3 linked regions of the Homo sapiens genome follow. The protein of the gene in region 2 binds, or shares a complex with, the protein of the main gene of each other region. Each region holds a gene or a part of one and is shown on either strand. Other genes may lie near its edges. The genes, in order: MAPKAP1, RPTOR and RICTOR.

Region 1 (8,079 bases), on a different chromosome or scaffold from region 2:
TTTTAAAGGAGAAGAAAAAGAGAAAGTCTAGGAAACATGATATAACCACTATAAAATATTTTAATAGCATTTTATTTCTGAAATTGTTTTTCTCCCCAAGTCTTTTCTTCTTGCTGAGACTGAAGCTTTGAAAGTATATAATATGGCCAGCCTTTATACACATACTATATGAAAATATACAGCAAATGCTAATAATACCAGCAACATAATGGTTTTTACACTAAGGGAAAAGAATTTGCATATATGCAAAAAAGACTGTTACTAGGCCCACTAATGGGGCAAGGAAAAGTCTAGGTTGGAACTGCCAAGAGAAATCTGTAACCTGGAAACTCATCCAAAATATCACAGGGGCTGGGCGCAGTGGCTCACGCCTATAATCCCAGCACTTTGGGAAGCCAAGGCAGGTGGATCACTTGAGGCCAGGAGTTCGAGAACAGCCTGGCATGGTGAAACTCCATCTCTACTAAAAATACAAAACTTAGCCAGGCATGGTGGTGTGCACCTGTAGTCCCAACTACTTGGGAGGCTGAGGCAGGAGAATTGCTTGAACCAGGGAGGCGGAGGCTGCAGTGAGCCGAGATGGCACCACTGCACTCCAGCCTGGGTGACACAGCAAGACTCCGTCTCAAAAAAAAAAAAAAAAATCGGCTGGGCACAGTGGCTCATGCCTGTAATCCCAGCACCTCAGGAGGCCACGGTGGGTGGATTACTGGAGGTCAGGAGTTCAAGACCAGCCTGGCCAACATGGTGAAATCCCATCTCTACTAAAAATACAAAATTAGCCAGGTGTGGTGGCATGCGCCTGTAATCCCAGCTACTGAGGACGTTGAGGCAGGAGAATCGCTTGAACCGGGGAGGCAGAGGCTGCAGTGAGCCAAGACCGTGCCATTGCACTCCGGCCTGGGCAAAAAGAGTGAAACACTATCTCAAAAAAAATAATAATAATAAAAATCAAATCATAGGGTACTCCTTGGCCTATATTTTTTTAAAAAATCAGAAAAAAATACTGACATGACAGCTTGTAAAAAATGTCCCCTGCACACATCAATCCCTGTGACCCAGAGTGAAGGGTGGCCAAAAAGCCAAGAACTAAAGAGCATATAGCTTCAGAGGGTCAAGGCACACAAGAGAAAGAGCTCAAAGCTCAAAACACTAGAGGTATCTAAGTCCAGAGGATTTAAAAGGATGAATTAAAAATAAAAGTTCTTATATAATAAACTAAATATATAAATCTCAAATTAAGAATTAAAATCATTTCCATTTACCTGATTGCTTAGAATTTCTTTCTTTCCACTGAATATTTTTGCATTTGATCTGGTTTTGTCTCTCTTTTCGGAGTCGTTCTAATCTTTGAGCTTGAAAAGAAATATTATAACTGTAAGTTTGTCAATGAAAGTTTACCATAAACAAAGACATAATTAACTACCTTTACATGAATAAAGATGTTTTATATTGCATATGTAGAGAAAAAGTCATAAAATTTTAAAGGTGGCACCCCTGAAAAGCAAATACCAACAAAAACATGAAAATATTCTTGATTTATAATTGAAATTAGAGGATATAAAACACTAATAGAGATCATAAAGATAGTATTAACATGGAAGAGAATAATAAAATGTGAAAACTTCTGTGATTAATATGACATTTCATTATATAAATCATTAATAACGGTCTTAAAGGAATTTTAATGCACAAATGAACTGAAGTGAATATTACATTACAGGAATAAAATTACTGTTATGAATTACTCTACCCATTTCAAAAATTAAAGATAAATGAACTCAGACTAGACTATTAAAGTTTTAAATATAAAATCCTTTATCTAAAAATCATGAAAATTATAAAATGTCAAAGCTATATAAATTAGCATAGCTTTTCTTCAGTGGGCTGAAACAGTTTATAGGTAGTAAAATAAATGATTTGTATCTTTGTAACATTAGTCAAATCTTAAAAAGAACAATTTTTCTTTTACAAAATTTTAAGATATGCTGCATGGATTAAAAAGTAAATTCTTTGGTCACTAAGACAACCTACAATCTCAATTAATTATTAGCATCTAAGTGCTACCTAAAGAAATTCCAACAAGAGTCACCTAAAATTATGCATTTGTGATTATATTGCCACTGGCTGATCAACCTTCAAAAATCAGTGAACTGATCCTTTAGAGAAATACCACCCAGCATGCACTTAACAACTGCCGCATACAGAGACCACAATAAAAAAGAAAGTCACAATTGATGCCATCTCTTGAAATCAGTTTTCTCTTGCTAATCTTCAGCTTCCTATCCCAGCATTTTGCTAATAGAAAATAAATACATCTCTTTTTCCGCCTCTTTCAAGATAGGAAATTATACACTTCTGCCTTAGCATTGTGGTAGGGAAACACTGAAAATAATCTTACCAGAAATTTAAACTATGCTGGGAAGAGCATTCTGACAATGTCACTATATCTAACCAACACTGAAGAAAACTACATTCAATTGCAATTAATAAATGTGAAGGGTACAGCCAAAGTAATATAATCATAAAGCTCTCAATTTAGCAGCATTCTCCCACTGAAATACATTCAACCTGTCATATAAGATATCATCTCAATAACCTGCAAGGAAGTCAGTTTCAACTAGAGAACTGAAAATCAATGGTTCTAAATTATATTCAAACCTTCACTCAAATCCTATTTTGACAAAAGTTCCTTTAGATACTGGGAAATGCTATTAATTATTTTCATCATGAGAGCAAATTATTCTTATGTCACAGATACTGAATTCTGAACCAAAACTTGAATGTGCCTTTCACAGTAAATTGTATCCAGCTCTACCTCCAATATTCCTTTATGTGTGTTTTACATTTGGACCATGAAAATAAATATGTAAGTATTTTCAGTGTTCTACTATATCTCCTTGCCATTACCTTTCCTGGGAGTTAGCAGGTTACTGCTAATTTGAAGATTATATTTTCTGATTATCTAAAAAAAATTACCTCCTAGAATACCTGTCATATTAGAACTACAATATGTATTCTAAATAATTTGTCTAAGTAAAAAAAAAAGTCCTTGGTTCATCACATTCCCCTTGAAACAAGGCCACCAAAAAAATATAAGTGGGAAAATGGGCAATAAGCTTTTAAAGCTAATGACTAAATACGTGTATACCAAAGTTGAGTGTTTTCAAGCCAGAAAAATCAAAAGGTGATCAATTTAAGAAAATAAAGGCGAAGTATCAAAAACAGGGGCCCCTTTTCTAATCTCACACCCTATGTATAGAATCCTACTAAAACCAGCCCTAACAAATACTCAGGTGTCTCCTCCCATTTCCCCACTCCCCCACAATTCCTCCAGGGGCAAGAAGTGCCTGCTCTCTTTGGGTGGTCACCTCTCTGTATTAAATGCTCTTTATTATGTCAACCTGAAATCTGTCTCCGGGTAGTCTACCTACTGGGACTAATGTTGCTGTGTGAAGACACTCAAAGCCAGTCCACTTGCCTTTCTACACAATGACTTGTTAGAAATGTCCAACATGTCTCTCCTAACCAACTTTTTCACTATCCCCCTTCTGTCTACTTCTAATAATATTCTAGAGGCCCTCTCCATTCGCAGTCGCAGAGATGGAGATGTTGCTCAGACTCACTCTTAGTCTGACATATGCATGTTCCTATTAATACCCGGAAACATCCCCCATTAAGCCTATTCCAATATTATGCATTATTCCATAAGACTGTTTACTGATTTAAAGCTCAGAAGACATGACTAGAACACAATGTTTACCTGTGTTTGAGCGTCTTCTAATACCAAAGTCCCAACTTGAGGTAATATCGACTGACTGGGCATATACATAGCCCTGAGTCTCACCATTGCTTCCCTGAATTTCTGACCCACTGTCTCCAGGCATTGAAGGAGGATGAATCTTCTCTAGGTCAACATCATGATCAATGAGAACCATCTCACACATTCCCGTGTCATCACTGGTCACATGTGACTGTCGAATATGAGCTAGAATGATAGTTGGATTGTCCAAGAAGGCCATCCTTTCTGTGGGCCAATTTCCTTAAAAGGCTATTTTCTCCTCTTCATATTGTTTCACGAGCTCACCTACCTAGAAACATGATGTACACAGCAAATATTTAAGAATAAGGCAGAAAATGACTGAATCATTTTTCAGACACATTCAGTGTAGTAAAATGCCACCTTGAAAATCAACATTTATCCCTGTTCTGTGGAGCTTAAAAGGATTTAGTCTAAGCTGAAAGGAAATCCTTATAAGCACTAGGGGCTGCAGCTCTAGTCAATGAGATCTCTATAGAATCAGAAAGGAAGGCTTGCACTCTTGCAAAACAAATCACAGCAACTCCTTACAAGTCAGGCCACTCGAAGCACATAACTACTGTTAAAACAATATATTTTCCTTTCTTTCTCCCTTCACTATCATGCAATCTTCTCATTACTTTATAAGGTCATGGGGGAACAAGTTGTATTTTCCTCAAATGATGTGCTAAAGTACAAAACTCTATTTCATCAGTTTACATTTCCCCTCCTGTCATATGATTGTGAAGTGTTTAAAAGGGCACAGACAATGCTTTCAGAGTTACTAGGGGTTTTATAAAAATGATGTACCACCAAATTAATGTTGCTCAATGAATATATTTTCCTGTCAAGATAGTATTGTGTTTTTGTTGTTGTTGTTGTTGTGTTTTTTCTGAGACAGGGTATCGCGCTTGTTGCCCAGGCTGGAGTGCAGTGGCGTGATCTTGGCTCACTGCAACCTCCACCTCCCAGGTTCAAGATTCTCCGGCCTCAGCCTCCCGCGTAGCTGGGATTACAGGGATGCGCCACCATGCCCAGCTAATTTTGTATTTTTAGTAGAAATGGGGTTTCTCCATGTTGGTCAGGCTGGTCTCAAACTCCCGACCTCAGTTGATCCGCCCGCCTTGGCCTCCCAAAGTGCTGTGATTACAGGCGTGAGCCACCATGCCTGGCCTGTGTTTTTAAAATAAAATTTATAATCAAAATTACCTACTATACAATCAACTTCTTATTTTAGAAACTTAATTATAAAAACTGCTTCCTCAGTCCTGTTAAAACTGTAATGAGGCCGGGCACAGTGATTCACACCTGTACTCTCAACCCTTTGGGGGGCCGAGGCAGGAGGACTGCTTGAGTCCAGGAGTTCAAGACCAACATGGGCAACACAATCAAAACTCTATCTCTACAAAAATATATATATATAATAATTATTATTTTTTAATTAGCTGAGCATGGTGGGACATGCCTGTAGTCATAGCTACTCATGAGGCTGAAGTGGGGGGATCACTTGAGCCCCAGCATTCAAGGCTGCAGTGAGCTATGATTGCACCATTGCACTCCAGCCTGGGTGACATAGTGAGACCCTGTCTTCTAAAAACAAAACAAAACAAAACATACAAAAAACACTGTAATAATATTTGTTCTAGTAACAAGATAGCACCCTCTCAGTTAAGTGAAAATACTCAACAAAGAAAATATTGCAGGACAACGGTTAGGTACTAGGCCCTAGAGACAGAAAGGGTTCAAACCCTGGCCCTATTACTCGTTAGCTATAAGATCTCAGTCAAAATACTTTACCTTTTTGAGCCTCCCTTTTTTTTTTCCTTCATTTATAAAATGGAAGCTTCAGGAGATAATGCAGGTAAAATGCTCAAAAAAATACATGGCATGTAATTAAATAAATGTTAGCTATTAATAATAATGATAAAAAATCAATAATTTCAATGATCAATTCTTGCTTAAAGTAGTCCTAAAATATGTCAATATCCCATCTGTCTTAGTAAGTTCGTGGCACATAAAATAAGTCTGTGCTTCCTTTGTGATAGAGGACACTGCAAGTCATCTGAGTGACTTCCCTGCCCCTGCAAAATTGTTGAGAAGTACAAGGAATATGAAAGCTGGATTGACTATGTTTCCAGGAACAGTCCTAGAAGATACTTACTTTCAGAAGGACTTATAACACCAGATTTTCTTGTAATCTGTTTCTTCTAGAAATGGAACATAGAGAGGAAATCTAGCTAATAAATCCTTACAGTTAACTAAGGTTTTAAAAATTGTTGTCTGGAAACACATCATTCTGCTGATGTGTCTTAAAGTGGGTCTTAAAATAAAGATACTGAGATTAAAAAGAAATTTAACTGAGGAGCATCTCTAATCAAGCAAATTACATTAATCTTCACTTTTTTCCTCTTAATATATTCCTTGAGTACTTATTTTACTCTGAGGCTAATGGGAAATGCAAAGGTGAGTAAGGTATCCCTGAATCAAAAAGTTAATACCCTAATACAGACCGAGTACATCTCCTAATACCATGGGATTCCTTTAAGCATCAAATTTCTGAGATATCTGGTCCCTGAAGTATTAGTGTCAATCTACCATTTTAAGGATATTGATCAGAAAAAAATATGAAATTAACAATGAGCATTTAAATTTCACTTGTAAAAATACAAACTTCTCTATAACCATAAAAAATGTATACACCACACATTTATTTATAAATGAGAGTATTTGTGGAAGCATAGTATCACAGATCAGAGCTGCAAACATCCTTCTACAGCAATCACAATAAGCCATCTTCCTGGCATGAAAGGAAGGCAGCTAGTCACCAGTAGAGAGGCAGGTGCTTTCAAATTCATACTGAATAGTTCTCCCTTGCAAAAACAAGGGCTTTAATGAGAAGTCACACATTTAATACACTTGATCTTAGCCAAAAGGCCGAGAAGTGATCAGATATTTAATAGGTGTTCTAGCACCAAAAAGTCAAATGGCAAAAGGCAAAGTGACAAAAGTATACTGAAGTGCCCTCAATAAAATCTATTCTAGGGAAATAGATCACTTCTGAAGATAAGAGGAATGGGCAAACACTTCTGAAGGCACATACCAACTTCCCAGCTTTATCCTCCCAGAACAAATGCCTCAACAGCAGCAGATATCTTCTCTATTAGGACACTATGACTTCATACATTAAGGAATCTGTATGATTCATTCAAAAAATATTTATTCCCTACCAGCTCTGATATGGAACTCCCACAGGACTGCCCCAGAAAACATATTATTGTGTATGTCACTTTTTACCTCCAATTACATGTACTTAAAGACTTAGACTATAAGTTCCACAAGGACAGGGTTCATAACACCATATTCCTTCTGGCAACAAAGGCTGTTATACATGGCAGGAGTTCAATAAATGTTGCTGTCTAACTTCCAAGGACTATTCAATTTTGTTGTAGAGATAAGTCATATATGAATGTGCCAGGTGTAAGTGTGTGATTATAAATAAAGGATTGTCTTTTTTTCGTAATACAAGAGCATCTCTTCAACGTGCCCTTCAAAATTGTCCCCTTGGAACACTATTCAACTTATTCTAACAAGACTACTTTTCAAAACCCAAAAGAATATTTTAAAAAATCTCCCAAAGAGCAGCAAATTATCATTTGAAGCTATGTTTGATTTCCAAGACAAGGACATACATATCACGGATAAAAACAAATTGTACTCTCTGATCAGTTGTGCACAGATCAAAAAGATTTTTAAAAATCTAACTCTGGCAAGGGTTCAGAGAAATGGGCACTCTCATGCACAATATGAAGGAATGAAAACTGGGACTTTTTAGACGGTAATTTGGTAATATTTACCAAAATATAAAACATGAATACTATCTGGGCAATCCTACTTCTAGGATTTGTTCTAAGGAGATAATTGTGTAAAATATTTATCTCAGAGTAATTTGTAATACTGGAAATCTAAAAGGAACCTACAATAGTACACATATGCCATGACACATACAAACAACACAATACTAAGTAGCGATTAACAATACATGGTAGAGGGTGAACAAAATGTGGTATATAACGATGGAATATTGTTCAGCCTTCAAACACAGGAAATTCTGACACATTACAACATTGATGAGCCCTGAGAACATTACGCTAAGTGAAATAAGCCAGTCGCAAAAGGACAAGTACCGTATGATTCCATTTATGAGGTACCTAAAGCAGTCAAACTGACAGAAAGTCTAACAGCAGTTGCTAGGAGCTGGAGGAAGGTAGTAATGGGGAAAA
Region 2 (8,079 bases):
ACACTTCCCGTGAGCTGTCCACCTTGGCTGAACCTCTGGCCACCTCCTCCTTGCCAGACAGAGTGGACATTCCTCCAGACAGACTGGGTGTTCCTCCACTCCCAGCACAAGAGCTACTGGGTGGGCGGTGGTGCATCTCCCTCCGGACACACACTAGAAATCTGGAGCAATAGAAGGACCTGATGGAGGGCTAGGTGGCCACATGTAAGGCCACTGCCCTCACAATCACACAGGCTCTTCACAAACATCCTCCCAGCTCCAAGTCCAGAGACCTCAACAGTTCTTTAGGCAGAGCGAATGGAAAGAGGGCAACAGATTAGGGCCTTTATGTTTCTTATCTAATGTCACTTCAAGGCCCTGCCTGACATTTCTGACCAGCCACCTGATATCCTCAAGCCCTTCTTCCTAAGGATGAGGCCCACTTTCTTCTAACTACACTAATAACTCTCAAACATCTGGCAGCAGGGCCCCTTTACGGTCTTAAAGGTTCCTGAAGACCCTCAAAGAGCTTTTTTATGAGTTTCATTTATCAACATTTTCCGTATTGAAGGTTAAAACAGAAAAACATAATTGATATATTTATGAATTCACTTAAAAATCAAACTTATTATATATTCAAATAAATAACATTTCTACAAATAACTATATTTTCAAAAATTGTCAGTTATCTTGTCACTTGTCTCAGGTGGCTTTTTTTAGATTTTTGCAAATCTCTTTAATATCCAGCTTCATAGAAGACAACTGGATTCTCATTTTTTTTGTTGTTGTTGTTGTTTGTTTTGTTTTGTTTTGTTTTGTTTTGAGACAGAGTCTCACTCTGTCACCCAGGCTGGAGTGCAGTGGCGCAATCTCAGCTCACTGCAAGCTCTGCCTCCCGGGTTCACGCCATTCTCCTGCCTCAGCCTCCCAAGTAGCTGGGACTACAGGCGCCCGTCACCTCGCCCGGCTAATTTTTGGTATTTTTTAGTAGAGATGGGGTTTCATCGTGTTAGCCAGGATGGTCTTGATCTCCTGACCTCATGATCTGCCCGCCTCAGTCTCCCAAAGTGCTGGGATTACAGGTGTGAGCCACCGCACCCCACCTTGGATTCTCATTTTTGGTGCCACATTCAATGGGTTGAAATACACTGTTTTGGTTGAAGTATGTGAGAAAAATCTGGCCTCACAAAGATACATAATGGCAGGAGTATCAGAATATCCAAATAATTGAGAATATTATTATTTGATATTACAACAAAATTGAGTAAGTGGTAGTTTCTTAAAGATCTGTTGCAATCTATTTGAATAAAATATTTAAACTCTCACTATAGGCAACATAGTGAGACCCCATCCCTACAAAAAATCCAAAAAAAAAATCTAGGCATGGTGACTCACACCTGTAGTCCCAGCGACTCAGGAGGCTGAGGCAGGAGGATCACTTGAGCCCAGGTCAAGGATGCAGTGAACTGTGAAACAAACAAATAACAACAAAAAATATACACACACGCACACAACAGAACATCAAGCGGGGTGTGGTGGCTGACCCCTGTAATCCCAGCACTTTAGGAGGCCAAGGCAGGTGGATCACCTGAAGTCAGGAGTTCGAGACCAGCCTGGCCAATATGGCAAAACCCCATCTCTACTAAAAATATGAAAATTAGCCAGGCGTGGTAGCAGGCACATGTAATCCCAACTACTCAGGAGGCTGAGGCAGGAGAATTGCTTGAACCTGGGAGGCGGAGGTTGCAGTGAGCCGAGATCGCGCCACTGCACTCCAACCTGGGCAACAGAGCAAGATTCCGTCTTAAAAAAAAAGAAAAAAAAACACCTATCCTCTGGTGAACTTTTTGTACCCTATTACATTAAAATCCACTGGTCTAACATTGAACGGATCTTTTACCTATGGATGATTTTATAATATCATGGATTGGTCATCTGGAAATATTTGTTCACTGAATTATGCAGCTGTTCCAAATGTGGGCACATTTCATTCTACAACATTAATTCCATTCATTAATATCACTATGGATCTCACCAGAAACATCTTTAAGTCTTGGGAAGCTGCCAGGCTCACAGCGGCAGATACAAGTTTTCCAAAACCAATTTTCACTTGAAGGTTCAAATTTCATGACTGGCAGCAAATACTGTCAGCTGTATTCCTTGAAGTGACAGCTCACTAAGTTCATTTTCAAAAACACGTCTGCCGTGGACACAGGCCTCAACATCCAGAGGCGGCCTGTCGGTGATTCCTTTGGGACGTGCTGCGTCCATGAAGGCAGCAGATGCTCCTCCTCCAGGCAGCCACTGGGCTTTGCCTGCAGGAGAAGGAGCAGCACACACAGTCTGAAAAAGATGTGTGCTTAACAGTCAAGATTTAGTAAAAGTCATCATTTTCACTGCTTTATTAGCAAGGACATTCTCTCCATGTGCATGGCAAAGAAATCAGGAACTAGTAGTACAGCTTGGCACCGCTGTCTTGATTCATCACTTTTGCACTGTCAGTGCAGGTATCAACAGAGTGGAAAAGGCCAATGGTGTTCCATTATTATGAAAACAGTTTTGACCTTGTGGATCCCTGCAAGGGTCTAGGAGAAGCCCCAGTGCACAGGGCACATGCTGTGAGCAGACTGAGCATCCTTCTCTGTCTGCTGAATGTTGGTCTGCTGGTCTGCTATTTTCAACCCCCTGACCTCTTAACATAAATGTTTCAGTGGAGACATTATGATACAGTTTTGTTTTGTTTTGTTTTGAACTAAACTTTGTTTCTCCCTCTGCACAGGTTCCACTTCCTCTCACTGCTAGCCATGTTACTTATGTAACTTTAGGTAAGCCATTCAACTAAAACGTCAGTTACCTCATCAGTAACACGGAGAGAATGATCCCTAGGTAATTTATGGTGCTGTTGAGCCTTAAAGATAATGTATGTGGAAGCCTTTTGTAAACTATCCATTTTGTATCAGTATAGTTTTGTTGAATCCCTACTATGTGCCAAGCACTGCCCTATGGACTAGCATAGACTAGACTAGGTCCTTGCTTTATGATGAAAAGCTCACATCTCCAGGAGGAAGTAGGGAGAAAAATATCAGAGAAATAAATAGCCATCAGGAGGGTTTATGAGTGACAGGGTGGCTGCTTCAGATGGGGTGATGGTGGGCCTCTCTGAGGAAGGGACCTAGATGCTAAGTATGAACGACGAGAAGGGGCCAGGTGTGCAAAGATCAGAGAGAAAAGCATTCCAGGAGTTTCTATCCAAGAAGCAGAAAAGGCAGGCAGAGGCCAAATCATGAAGGCTTTGTGAACCAGCAAGAGGAGTCTGAGTTCTACTTTAAGCACAGAGGAAGCCAATGGAGACCACCAGTAAGGAAGTAACAGAATCTGATTCACACTTTTGTGGGGAAAAGCAAGAGAGATCAGATTGTTACTGTGTCTGTATAGAAAGAAGTAGACATAGGAGACTCCATTTTATTCTGTACTAAGACAAATTCTTCTGCCTTGAGATTCTGTTAATCTATGACCTTACCCCCAACCCCGTGCTCTCTGAAACATGTGCTGTGTCAAACTCAGGGTTAAATGGATTAAGGGCGGTGCAAGATGTGCTTTGTTAAACAGATGCTTGAAGGCAGCATGCTCCTTAAGAGTCATCATCACTCCCTAATCTCAAGTACCCAGGGACACAAACACTGCGGAAGGCCACAGGGACCTCTGCCTAGGAAAGCCAGGTATTGTCCAAGGTTTCTCCCCATGTGATAGTCTGAAATATGGCCTCGTGGGAAGGGAAAGACCTGACCGTCCCCCAGCCCGACACCCGTAAAGGGTCTGTGCTGAGGAGGATTAGTAGAAGAGGAAGGCATGCCTCTTGCAGTTGAGACAAGAGGAAGGCATCTGTCTCCTGCCCGTCCCTGGGCAATGGAATGTCTCGGTATAAAACCCGATTGTACGTTCCATCTACTGAGATAGGGAAAAACTGCCTTAGGGCTGGAGGTGGGACATGCGGGCAGCAATACTGCTTTGTAAAGCATTGAGATATTTATGTGTATGCATATCTAAAAGCACAGCACTTAATCCTTTACCTTGTCTATGATGCAAAGACCCTTGTTCACGTGTTTGTCTGCTGACCCTCTCCCCACTATTGTCTTGTGACCCTGACACATCCCCCTCTCGGAGAAACACCCACGAATGATCAATAAATACTAAGGGAACTCTGAGGCTGGCGGGATCCTCCATATGCTGAACGCTGGTTCCCTGGGTCCCCTTATTTCTCTCTCTATACTTTGTCTCTGTTTCTTTTTCTTTTCCAAGTCTCTCGTCCCACCTAACAAGAAACACCCACAGGTGTGGAGGGGCAACCCACCCCTTCACACTTTCAAAAAATCCCTCTGGCCAGGTGTGATGGCTCACGCCTGTAATCCAGCACTCTGGGAGGCTGAGGTGGGAGGATCACTTGAGCTCAGGAGTTCAAGACCAGCCTGGCCAACATGGTGAAACCGCATCTCTACTAAAAATACAAAAAATCAGCCGGGCATGGTGTCATGCACTGGTAGTCCCAGCTACTCGGGAGACTGAGGCACGAGAATCTCTTGAACTCGGGAGGTGGAGGTTGCAGTGAGCCGAGATCACGCCATTGCACTCCAGCCTGAGAAACAAGGAGAGACTCCATTTCAAAATAAATAAAAGATCCCTCTGACTGCTATGTGAAAAACTGGTTGTAGGGCAAGAATGGACATAGGGAGACCAGTCAGGACACAAATGCAGTGTCCAGACAAGAGACGGTGGCTGCCTGGACTGGGGCTGCATCAGTGGAGACAAAATGAAGCAGGCCAATGTAAGACATGCTTTGGAAGTAACGCTGATGGGTTCTAATGAATTGGATGGGGCGATAAAGAGAGGGAGAGGAAAGAATTAAGGATAAACTCTAAACTTACAGCTTGAACAACTGAGTGGATGGTGGTTGTGGCAAGCGGTGATGGAGAAAACTAAGAAAAAGCAGGCAGTAGGCATCTGAGACAGAAATTTCAGGCCAGATCAGAACTAAAGATTGGGGGTTTAAGCATCACTGGCATGTAGACACTATTTAAAATCATGGGCCCCGATGAGATCTGCTAGGGAGGGGCACACCCAGAACAGAGAATGGGGTCCAAGATCAATTCCTGGGGTGCCCCTGCATTTAGGTGTCAGGTAGCAAAGGAGTCTGAGAAGGAACAACTAGTGACCTAAGAGGAAAATCCGAGTTTCGTGGAGACACAGAAGCAAGTGAGGAAAGAGCTTTATGAAGAGGCCATGGTCCACATTGTGGAATGCTGCTGAGAGGTGAAATAAGAACAGAGAAGGACAGAGAAGAGAACTTTAGATTTAGCAACAAACTGGGGCCATATGGAGACCAGTCTCAGGGGAGTGGAACAGGGCACAGTTGGAATGTGGAGAGGACGCAAGGTGAGGAAAGCAGAGGGGGTAGTGTAGATTATGAAGGATTGCTATTACCCTTGCTGAAAAGACCGCATAAACCTTTGGCAGTCCATGTATTAGTTGAACAGATCTACTCTGCTTCCTCCATGACCTGGGCAAAGTATGGCTACAGAGCAATGCAACTGAGTCTAGAGAATGGTTTACAAAATAGCCTTCTTCATCTAACCGTTTCATCCCCTACACATGTAGACATAGGATGCCTGTCAGTGGTCCTACACATGCATGGAAATAGTGTCTGACAATGACACCACACATGTGTACACAGAATGTGTCTGCCAGGGGTGCTACATGCATGTAGACAGAGTGTCTGTCAGTCTACATGTGTGTAGACATAGCATGTCTGTCAACACTTTCAGAGCAATAGCTCTCAAGCACCCGTCATTCCATCCCACATATTCCAGGCAAAAGAGTCATCTGAGACCAGTTATCCCCACTGTCCACTTTCCAGTAGGAAAATGAACTCTGTGATAACTATAAAGTATCACAGTTAGACCAGGCACGGTGGCTCACACCTGTAATCCCAGCACTTTGGGAGGCCGAGGCAGGTGGATCACCTGAGGTCAGGAGTTTGAGACCAGCCTGGCCAACATAGTGAAACCCCGTCTCTAATAAAAATATGAAAAAAATTGGCCAGGCATGGTGGTGGGCACCTGTAATCCCAGCTACTCGGGAGGCTGCGGCAGGAGAATCGCTTGAACCCAAGAGGCGGAGGTTGCAGTGAGCCAAAAACACAAATAGGGGAGATATATACGTATCTGTTTTAGCCAAAGGTCTGTGAATGATTCATTTTGAACTACAATTCATATATGTCTAGTTATTTGAAAATTGCAAGCTAAAAACACTATGGATACATATATGCCTCATTCACTATACATAGTAGAATTAACCAAACAACAAACTAACTTGATAATAATTTTAAAGTAACAGTAACTTAGAAATTAAAATGTGGTAAAAGTGGCATTTGAAAACCAAGACTGATTCAAAACAAAGATGGCAGGAATCCCAACTGAGAGCGGGCAAGGGCTGTAGCTCTGGAAGGATGCCAAGTGTTGGGTGGCAAAAAAAACTTCTTGGGAGTCATCAGTCAGTCAACTTTGGTAAAGATGTCAATTTGAGGAATCTGTAGCAAGGCTACTAAATAGGAGCCAGTAAGAACTAATGAATATATGTACAAAATAAAAGCGTATGGAATTGCACATTAACCACAAGAAGAAGCAAAATCTCAGCTTGCATTTAGGACAGTCAGTGGCCACCAGGAAGTAGTTGATGTAGCTCCTAGCACAGAACAACCACGCCCACACATTTCACTTTACAAACATGCTGCTCCACCAGACTGGAGGCTACGTCCAGCACAGTGGGACTGTGTGGCCTGGAGGCCTGGGTAACAGAGATTCTTACGTAGGTAACCCACTGGTCAAAAAACACCCCAGGGCCAGGTGCTGTGGCTCACACCTGTAATCCCAGCACTTTGGGAGGCTGAGGCAGGTGAACGACCCGAGGTCAGGAGTTCAGGACCAGCCTGGCCAACATGGTGAAACCCCATCTCCACTAAAAATACAAAAAAAACTAGCCAGGCGCCTGTAATCCCAGCTACTTGGGAGGCTGAGGCAGGAGAATAGCTTGATCCTGGGAGGCGGAGGTTGCAGTGAGTCAAGACCACACCACTGCACTCCAGCCTGGGCAACAAGAATGAAACTCCATCTCAAAAAAAAAAAAAAAAAAAAAAAAAAACCACCCCAGGCTGAGCGTGTTGGCTGATGCCTGTAATCCTAGCATTTTTGGAGGACAAGGCAGGAGGATTGCTTGATCCCAGGAGTTCAAGACCAGCCTGGGCAACACAGTGAGACTCCCCAACCCCAGACACACTGGCGCACACTTATAGTCTCAGCTACTGGGGAGGCTGAGGTGAGAGGATCACTCAGGCCCAGGAGGTCGAGGCTGCAGTGAGCCGTGTGATCTCACCACTGTACTCCAGCCTGGATGACAGAGCAAGACCCTGTCTCAAAAAAAAAAAAAAAAAAAAAGAAACAGAAAAACACTCCACAAATGGGGTTGTTCAGCCTGCAGTGTTGGACTACAGTGTGTTTGGTAATAAATCTGAATTAGTATGAATATTTACAATAAAAGAAAAAAAAAGTTTGCTGACTTCTCAAAGACAAAGAGAGAGGCCTGGCCATAGCCCAGTTGCCCCTTCAGTTATGGCATCAGGGAGCCCCTGTTCCCACCCTCCAGAAACTGTCACACACACTGTGCCAAATGTCAGCTGCCATTTGTCTTTATCTTTGAACCTATGCCATTATTCTTCTTAAATGTGGCCTGTTTCATTCTCTTATGCTACCATCCCCACTCAATATCATTTGAGTTTGCAACTTCTGTCCTATAGCATGTGTGATACGGTCCTTGAGGGAAGAGATGACAAGATTCCAAAGGACCTGACCTTTGGAAGAGGGAAGAGATGACAAGATTCCAAACTCCCACACACTCAACTGAAGATGTTAGCTGCTGATTTTCTCCACCGAAAAACAGATACAGCAAACTTTCTCCCCAGCTCCTTTCTAAGCAGCAATCTCAGTAGTCACTAAGAGTCACAGAACTTTTGTTTCTCTTAACAACCTGTGAAAAGCTTATTAGGGAATG
Region 3 (8,079 bases), on a different chromosome or scaffold from region 2:
CACTCCCCCTCTCTGCCCCAAGACTTTGCATTTTGTGCTAAATCAACCAAGTAGCAAAATTGAAAGGTATGCTTTTTTTGGCATAAATTATATTTTTGAAATTAAATATTCTATAAAGAAAGTAAAACAAAATGTGCAATTTATGCATGCTGTGGTGCAGCTATCCGATACTTACATTACAAAAATACTCCAAACAGGAAAAAAGTCCACATTCTGTGAGTCATATAAACCTACTAGGAATGAAAAATACCCTGGAACTTGGAACTAAAAGAAGAAAAGAATGCTCCTAGAAAGATTCTCACAGATTTCAGTGTTCTTTGATAAGCACTGCTATTAATTTCACTGGTATGCTTTTAAATGAGATTCTCACTGTAATGACACTCTTGAGATTAAGATAGTAACAGTGTATTTTGTTAATGCAGAGACAATGGAGACTTCCTAACTTACATTTTGGAAAATCTGAAATGTTGGTTCATTCCAAATAGCTCCTCTAACAAAAGTCTCTCAATTTTACCTTTTCTTTTTTCCCCATGTTTTAATGGATTGTGAATCTGAGACAAAAGTGGAAGCATAAGACTAAAGGAGAAAAAACCTTACTTCCAAAGAACATTTCCCAAAGTAGTTTACAAAGTTCATCTCACACAAAATTAGCACCTCACTCTTACCATGCAAAAATAACTGCAGTTATAATTTGAATGACAGACAATTTGGTTTTTATTGCTTAATGATCTGTGCTTTAATGTGGGGATAAAAGGCATCCTCTGAATGGAATAACATTTTATATAAATAGCAGTAGGAAAATGTAAATAAGCATTGATATCCCACTGCTGAACACTTGGCCGTTGTGATATGCCCTGAAAAACTCAGCTTGAATTATCTCAAGCTCTAGATAAAAGAGCTGAAACCCATTAAAGTTGTCATTTCAAAAGGACTTGTACACATTATGTTAATAATGTATATACTTCCAAAGAGCCTCTTTTAATGTCACTGTCATATAGAATGTCCATATTCTACTAATCGTTATTAGAAAAAATTTAATTAGGGAGAACAGACTGTTTCCCCCTTCCAATCTACCTAAGAATAAACAGGAAATAAAAGTATAGGAAATTTTAGAGCATATTTAATTATGAATACTAAATTTCTAATTTCCTTATTTATCAGTATTTACTTAGTATGTGAGGCTGAAATCTGTTCTTGAAAAAAAGTTCAATTAGAAATAACAATTCACTTTACGATTAGAAATTCATAGTTTACAACCAGCACAACTGCCCAGATTCCTCCCAATTATTCAATAATTACCAATAGTACAAATTTATATGGACTAAGATTAATCCTAAAATCTTTAAAAACTACAGTATTGACATTATTTTGGTATTCTATAGTCTGTAATATCTATTATTTATAGATGATTTTCTCAATTATTTCTATTACTGCTGATATCATTCCTAACCTCTTCTGCTATAATTTAATATTTTTAAACACTTAAGTTAATCACTTGGCACTGCATGTATTTTTCACCATAAAGTCTACTTTTTACAAACAAGTACTCAAAGAAAATGTATTAGACCTGTCAGTGAAATCATGGAGAAACCAAATAGCACTATAAATTTAAGCGTAGACTTTTTTTTTTTTTTAGTATACTGATAACCACAAAGCTCTGAGTATCTCCCCAAAGTAAGTGATATAGGCAGATATGATAAGGTATACATACATATTTTTCAAAGTAACAGTAAAAAAAAAAAACAAAAAAAAAAACACAAAACATTCAGGCCAATACTAACTAAGCCTTATTTCAGGATAGATGACCAAGGTGAGGGTACAGGGATAGTGATGGTGGGGGAGGGGGTGTGTGTGTGTGTAAGACAAAAAAAAAATTACTGTTAACTTTTGAGGGATTAAACCACAGATTTTTATACTCTATATTAACTGAGGTAGTGTTTAAAATGAATGTCTAAAATATGTTAATCCCATTATGAATAAGATTACATTACTTCCTTTGGAGGTTTTAACCACTATTTGGTCTAGTAACTCTGACATTTGGTTCTCTGGAAAGGCAGTTTAGTTATCCAAGACCAAAGACCACGATGACAGGCAACGTTCTTAGAAGTACTGTTGACATTTAAATAAACACTTGGGTTCAGTGATAAAGTATAAAAAAATTATTTATCTTCAACTGGATTTTATGAGAGAAAATCTGAAGAACCACTTTTCAACATAAGCAGCAGCTTACAGCCCTTATCTGCTTTGTTATAATGTAAGTTGCTACACAGTGCACATAAGAACAATTCACTGAAGTGCAGTCAAAGAGGTGTTATGAAGTGAGATGAAATGCTTCATCCCAACTGGAACTTTCAGTTCCAGTAAATAAATTTTTTAAAAAAGTATCTCTGTGAGTTATGTTTTCTAGTTCACAGGGTTCTTTACAGAGATCTCAAAGAACAAGCCCATTACAAAAAGGATCTGCATCATGGGAAAATATTAATGTTGCTATGACTGTGTCAAAACTGATGTGTAATTGTAATAAAAATGTTATACACAAATGAATTAAAAAAGAATCCTAATCAGTCCAGCTGGATTTTCTATTTCTATTTATATATAGATCTCAAAAAAGATAATCCTTTCATTTACAAGCATTCAAATGATGGCCATGCTATTTTTATATACAAATTTGCATATATGTTTAATTCCTGTAAAAAGTTCCAAATACCTTTAGACATATACAAATTAAACAAACAAAAACCTTGCCCTCATCAACTTAACTTCACAAATGGATAAAGGCAATTAATATACTCATAAACCCACCTACCACTGCATTTAGTTTGTGCAAAACAAAAACACTGATATAAAAATTAAGTTACTGCTGCTTTAAAATTTGGTACTTAAGGCTTTTCACTACAATTTTTCTCAATAACAAGCTTTATTAATGTTTTTTTTAAGGAAATATGGCTCTTCTTTCCCCATGGAATGTGTAAATTGCAAGCAAACTTATCTTTTCCTCAGGAGATCCAAAGTATTATTTAATGCTTTCCTATCCTTTAGGTCTAAACTAACAGTGCTTGTTCAAGTTCCTGTTTAAAGCGATGAGATGGAAAGTTGATGAAAGTGGAAGTCCATTGCAAATATATGCATTCTATAAATGGGAAATATTTTTAATTAAAATAAAAAATGATTTTTAAATTTTATTCAAGAACTGTAGTGAAAAACCTTAATTGGTTCATATATCCTGTAATAACACATTGCAACAAAATGAAGAGTTGGAAAACAAGAATCTTTATGCAAGTCTAGTAACATAAAAATAACTTATAAGTCCCGGGTTGTTGAGGCTCTTCTTCTGCTTTGAGGTTATAAACCTCTGAAGTAGTGTTACAAACATTAAGAAAAACGTGAAAGGGCCAAAGTTCCCTCTCTAATACCAGCAGTTATAGCACACCCCATTGTGGTAATAGGATGCAGCCTTAGAGACACTGATTCCTGCTTTCCACAAGTTAGTTAACAAACAAGGCATCTGTATTATTTACCCTAAAAATCATTCAGAAATAACTTGTGAAGGGTGCTTCTGCATATCCCATTATTGTTCCACTGTCATTATGCTTTTAAAATGAAAGAAAATAGAAAACCTATGTAGGTATTCAGTGCTTGGCTCTTGCATACAATGGTAACTGAAACTCTTAAAACTGTGGTAATGAATCATGAACCCCTCAAAAGGCTCAACAAAGGAGAGAAGGAAGTTGTTTTGGTTAGGAAAGTCAGCAGTTCCAACTGTTCATGTACCAGTAACTGCGGAACAGTGTACAGAAGATACTCCTGTCTTTGCTGCCTAGTCAGTCGTATTTTCTGAGGCTTTTAGGAAATCCACAAATATGAATATATATAGTATGTATCTATATCCATCATAAATATGAGGTCAGGATTCAGCAGATGTATCAACTATAGGTTGCTTTGGTGGTGTTGCCAACACAGCCTCTGCTTCTTCATGCATCTAGGGAAAAAATGGTGTATCATCAATTACTTTTATAAAAACAGATGATATAACATATTTATATAAATATCTAATTTTTTTTTTTTTTTGAGATAGGGTCTTGCTCAGTCTTCCCAGGATGCAGCACAATGTTGCCATCTTTGTTCATTGCAACCTCTGAGTCCTGGGTTCATATGATCCTCCCACCTCAGCCTCCCAAGTAGCTGGGAATACAGGCAGATGACACCAACCTCGGCTAATTAAAAAAAAAAAAAAACTGTGTTGACACGGTCTCACTATGTTGCCCAGGCTGGTCTTGAATTCCTGGGCTCAAGCAATTCTCCCGCGCTGACCCCACAAAGTGCTGGGATTGTAGGCATGAGTCACCACACCCAGCTATAATCTGTATTTTAATTCAATTCAAACACAGAATTATTCTTGGAAGATAAATTTGAGAAGTACTAATCATACTTACTTGTAGAAACTGTACATCTTGAAATAATTCTTGTATGAACCTCCGACACGGAAGTCTGAATGTGCAGTGTGACAGCAAATGGGAAACCTCAGAGTAAAGGCATATGTCATCAAATGTTTGAGGATACTTCTCCTTAATTCTAAAATAAAAGATTATGGTGTGATGAAAACTGTAATCATGATGTATCTATTTTTCCTCCAAGGTATCACTTACTTTAAAAATAGATTTCCCTACAGATATGGATTAGATGGCATACTTGGGGTGATGACTTGAGAATATAAAATATTAAATATTCCTGTCACACACTTAGACATTCTGAGTTTGGGTTTTTTTTTAAAAAAAATGATTATCAAAACCTGAATACTTCTTGTAAAATTGAAGCATTCTTTTTTATTGGCATGAGAAATTGCAAAATATATTTATCAGCCTAGGATGATTAAAATATGTTCCAAATTAAGTTTTAAAATAGAAATACATCTTTAAAGTTAAGTTATTAACATCCCTGACTGGGCTATTTCTTTGGATACTTCAAATAGCAGCTTTTAGCTAGGAAAGCACCTCAGAATCAGCTGTGAGTTGGGTGAGTGACCAGTTAAGGGCCCGCTCCCAGAGCTCCCAGCCCAGAGGTCTGCTGTGGGACCCTGATACCTATGTGGGACCCCAATACCTATATCACCCTTAAAAAAAAGCCCTACAGCTGGCTGGGCACGGTGGCTCATGCCTGTAATCCCAGCACTTTGGGAGGCTGAGACAGGAGATCACCTGAGGTCAGGAGTTTGAGACCAACCTGGCTAACCTGGCGAAACTCTGTTTCTACTAAAAATACAAAAATTAGCTAGGTGTGGTGGTACACACCTGTAATCCCAGCTACTTGGGAGGCTGAGGCAGGAGGATTGCTTGAACCCGGGAGGCAGAGGTTGCAGTGAGCCGAGATTGCACCACTGCACTCCAGCCTGGGTGACAGAGCAAGACTCCGTCTCAAAAAAGAAATACAAAATACAAAATAAAAAAGCCCTGCAGGAGACCCTGAGGTGCATTTCTTTTAAGAACCACTGCTTTAAATAATAAGAAAAAAATTAAACCAAGAAAATATGACTTGTTACATGTAAGCCCACTTTCCTCAAACTTTTTGGTCTCAGGACTTACTTTCTTAAAAATTACTGAAGACCCAAAAAAGCTTATTTTTGTGTGGGTTACAGCCACCATTAACTACTATATTAGAAATTAAAATTGAGAGAATTTCCTAACATGCATTAATTTATTTTAAAAATAAATCCATTACATGTTAACATGTATTTTAATAAAAATAACTGTATTTTCCAAAAGTAAAAAAGTGAGAAGAGTGGCATTATTTTACATTTTTTGCAGATCTCTTCAAAAGTCTGGCTTAATAGAAGATAGCTGGATTCTCATACTTGCTTCTACATTCAATCTGTTGCCATATGTTGTTTTGGCTGAAGTATTAAAGAAAATCTAGCCTCACACAGGTATGCAATGCAGTTTAGAACTACTGATGTAAGTTAACTAGCCTAACTTTTGAAGTATTTCAAGTATCTTTTCTCGACTTAAAAAACAGAATAAACAAATAATACTCATGCACATAGTTTACTCACGTTAAAAGCCCAGTCTCATGACATTTAGTTGAAACTGAACTACTCAAATTAATGACTAATCTTAGAACTTCTTTGCGAAGGAGTATACGGCACATTGGTGTATCATCTGGAATTGTTTTAACACCTGAAAAGATTTCAGGGAGAAGTTAAATATTATCTATGTCACAATAAAATGATTAAAACTCATGAAATTTATTTTTAAACTTCACCTAAAGACCTAGAGATCAATTACACATGATCTACCAATCATTTTGGGAGCAAAACTCTAATAAAAGCAGATAGCTAAGAGGCTCTATGTCAGTGGGTGATATAGGTGCAATAATTAACAGTGTTAAATTGCTTCACTAAAATGGACGTATTACTGTTTTGAGACAACTTTAATTTACAGTATTTACGAAAAACAAAACAAAACCAACTAATCAGAACAGTTTTACTAATAATGATTGGATTTGAATCTGAAGACTCACCTAGTAACAATTCTGTGCTTTTGGTGCTGCTAGCTGAGCCTTCTTGAGACACCCCATCACTGCATCCAGAAATCCCCGAAAACTTAGAGGGAACCACTTCTAAAGGATTATGGATAGTCTGCTCACACCAATCAGAATATGGAATATCTTGAAAGTCTGAAGAAAAAAATAATTATTTCAATTAAAGCACCATAACGGCTTAATTCCTGTGCTTACATTGCATGCTAAAAAGAAATAATATAAAATAACATCTTCTCTAATTGTATGCAATATACCAAACACTTCCAAAACTTTTTTCCTCATAGAAAATGAAAATAACTACAGCATGCAAAGGGCCTGGACAGGGCTGTTCACAGTGGAAAAGACCTAATCCAGGGATCTGTCAGACTCAGGCCCCACTGTGACCTGGAACCGTGAGAGGATCAGCATCTCAGCATAACATAATTTGGCATATCAGTGTGCTGCAGCTCACCAGCTGGGAAACTCTGAATTAGAATACCAAAAAGAAATTTGGAAAAGTAAACCAGAGAACTTTAGTCATCACTAGGTTTTTCTGAAGGTGGGACGTGATCACTTACCTGAATGACTACATATTGCACTCAGTTGGTTGCTGGGCTGGAAACCCAGAATTTCAATACAGACACAATAAAGGCAGTTATCATCTGTATGTTCCTGTAGTCCAGTGTCTTCTGTACTTTCTAAAAACAGAGAGGCATCTGAATGGATTGAATTCATTATTTCCGTAAGACTCATCTGCTGTCGTAGCAAGTGAAAAGAATTTTTTACAAGACCTCCAGTTCCAGATGGAAGACCTGTGCATAAGTAAATATAAAACATAATCCAATAAAGATAATACTTTTCAAGGTACCTTAAATTATGTGAAATTTTAAAGAAAGCTTAAGCACATTTTATGACTCAAAATCTAACTGGAAAGAAAAAAAGAATAATTTGCTTTAAGTTATAAAAATAAGGAAAGCCAGCAGATGTTTATTATTTTAATATATAGTGTTTTAAATACAAAATGGAAAATTGAGATTATATAATACATCATTTCAATTATCGTCAATATTTGCCTAAAGATATGTAATAATTCTAAGTATAAAGAGGCATTTGTTTAAAAAGTCATTAAGAATATAAAGCTATAAAACCTGTGGCTTATATTTACATATTAAAATATAACAGTTCAAAACAAAGACCGTGTATTTTATAAGTACATTTCTTTCTCCTTACTCTAAACAAACAGCTATTTCCTGGATCTATGAGGATTAGTGTTATACATTGTTCATGTGCTACTTTTAAAAAACAGAAACAACTAATTTGGTTTCTATTTCCTTGAAAGGTTGAGTACTTCACTGAAAACACTGTTAAGTCCCTCACACATACACAAAAATGTGGTTTAATTTTAAGCTGACTTTAACAATTGTTTTGGTATAATTTTAAAGTTGATCCAAAAGTGAGTCTTCCTAAATTTTTAGTGTTATCCTACTAGAAAGAACTAAGAGTTTTCTTTTTAATATAAAGAGGCATCTCACAAGTACAATGCACAATGCATTACCTCCTGCATCA

The links.
Region 1: RPTOR (region 2) and MAPKAP1 share a complex: the UniProt entries of both Homo sapiens proteins name them as parts of the mechanistic target of rapamycin complex.
Region 3: RPTOR (region 2) and RICTOR share a complex: the UniProt entries of both Homo sapiens proteins name them as parts of the mechanistic target of rapamycin complex.

The regions. Positions count from the first base shown.
Region 1 is NC_000009.12:125,668,553-125,676,631, forward strand, and holds part of MAPKAP1 (target of rapamycin complex 2 subunit MAPKAP1), read right to left. Parts: intron 6,746-8,079; exon of another isoform or gene 6,602-6,745; intron 4,092-6,601; 5' UTR 4,023-4,091; coding exon 3,764-4,022; intron 1,356-3,763; coding exon 1,266-1,355; intron 1-1,265. UniProt on the Homo sapiens protein: Component of the mechanistic target of rapamycin complex 2 (mTORC2), which transduces signals from growth factors to pathways involved in proliferation, cytoskeletal organization, lipogenesis and anabolic output.
Region 2 is NC_000017.11:80,547,466-80,555,544, reverse strand, and holds part of RPTOR (regulatory-associated protein of mTOR), read right to left. Parts: intron 1-8,079. UniProt on the Homo sapiens protein: Component of the mechanistic target of rapamycin complex 1 (mTORC1), an evolutionarily conserved central nutrient sensor that stimulates anabolic reactions and macromolecule biosynthesis to promote cellular biomass generation and growth.
Region 3 is NC_000005.10:38,938,400-38,946,478, forward strand, and holds part of RICTOR (rapamycin-insensitive companion of mTOR), read right to left. Parts: coding exon 8,069-8,079; intron 7,326-8,068; coding exon 7,092-7,325; exon of another isoform or gene 6,670-7,091; coding exon 6,514-6,669; exon of another isoform or gene 6,171-6,513; coding exon 6,047-6,170; exon of another isoform or gene 5,835-6,046; coding exon of another isoform or gene 5,802-5,834; intron 4,573-5,801; coding exon 4,434-4,572; intron 3,980-4,433; coding exon 3,905-3,979; 3' UTR 1-3,904. UniProt on the Homo sapiens protein: Component of the mechanistic target of rapamycin complex 2 (mTORC2), which transduces signals from growth factors to pathways involved in proliferation, cytoskeletal organization, lipogenesis and anabolic output.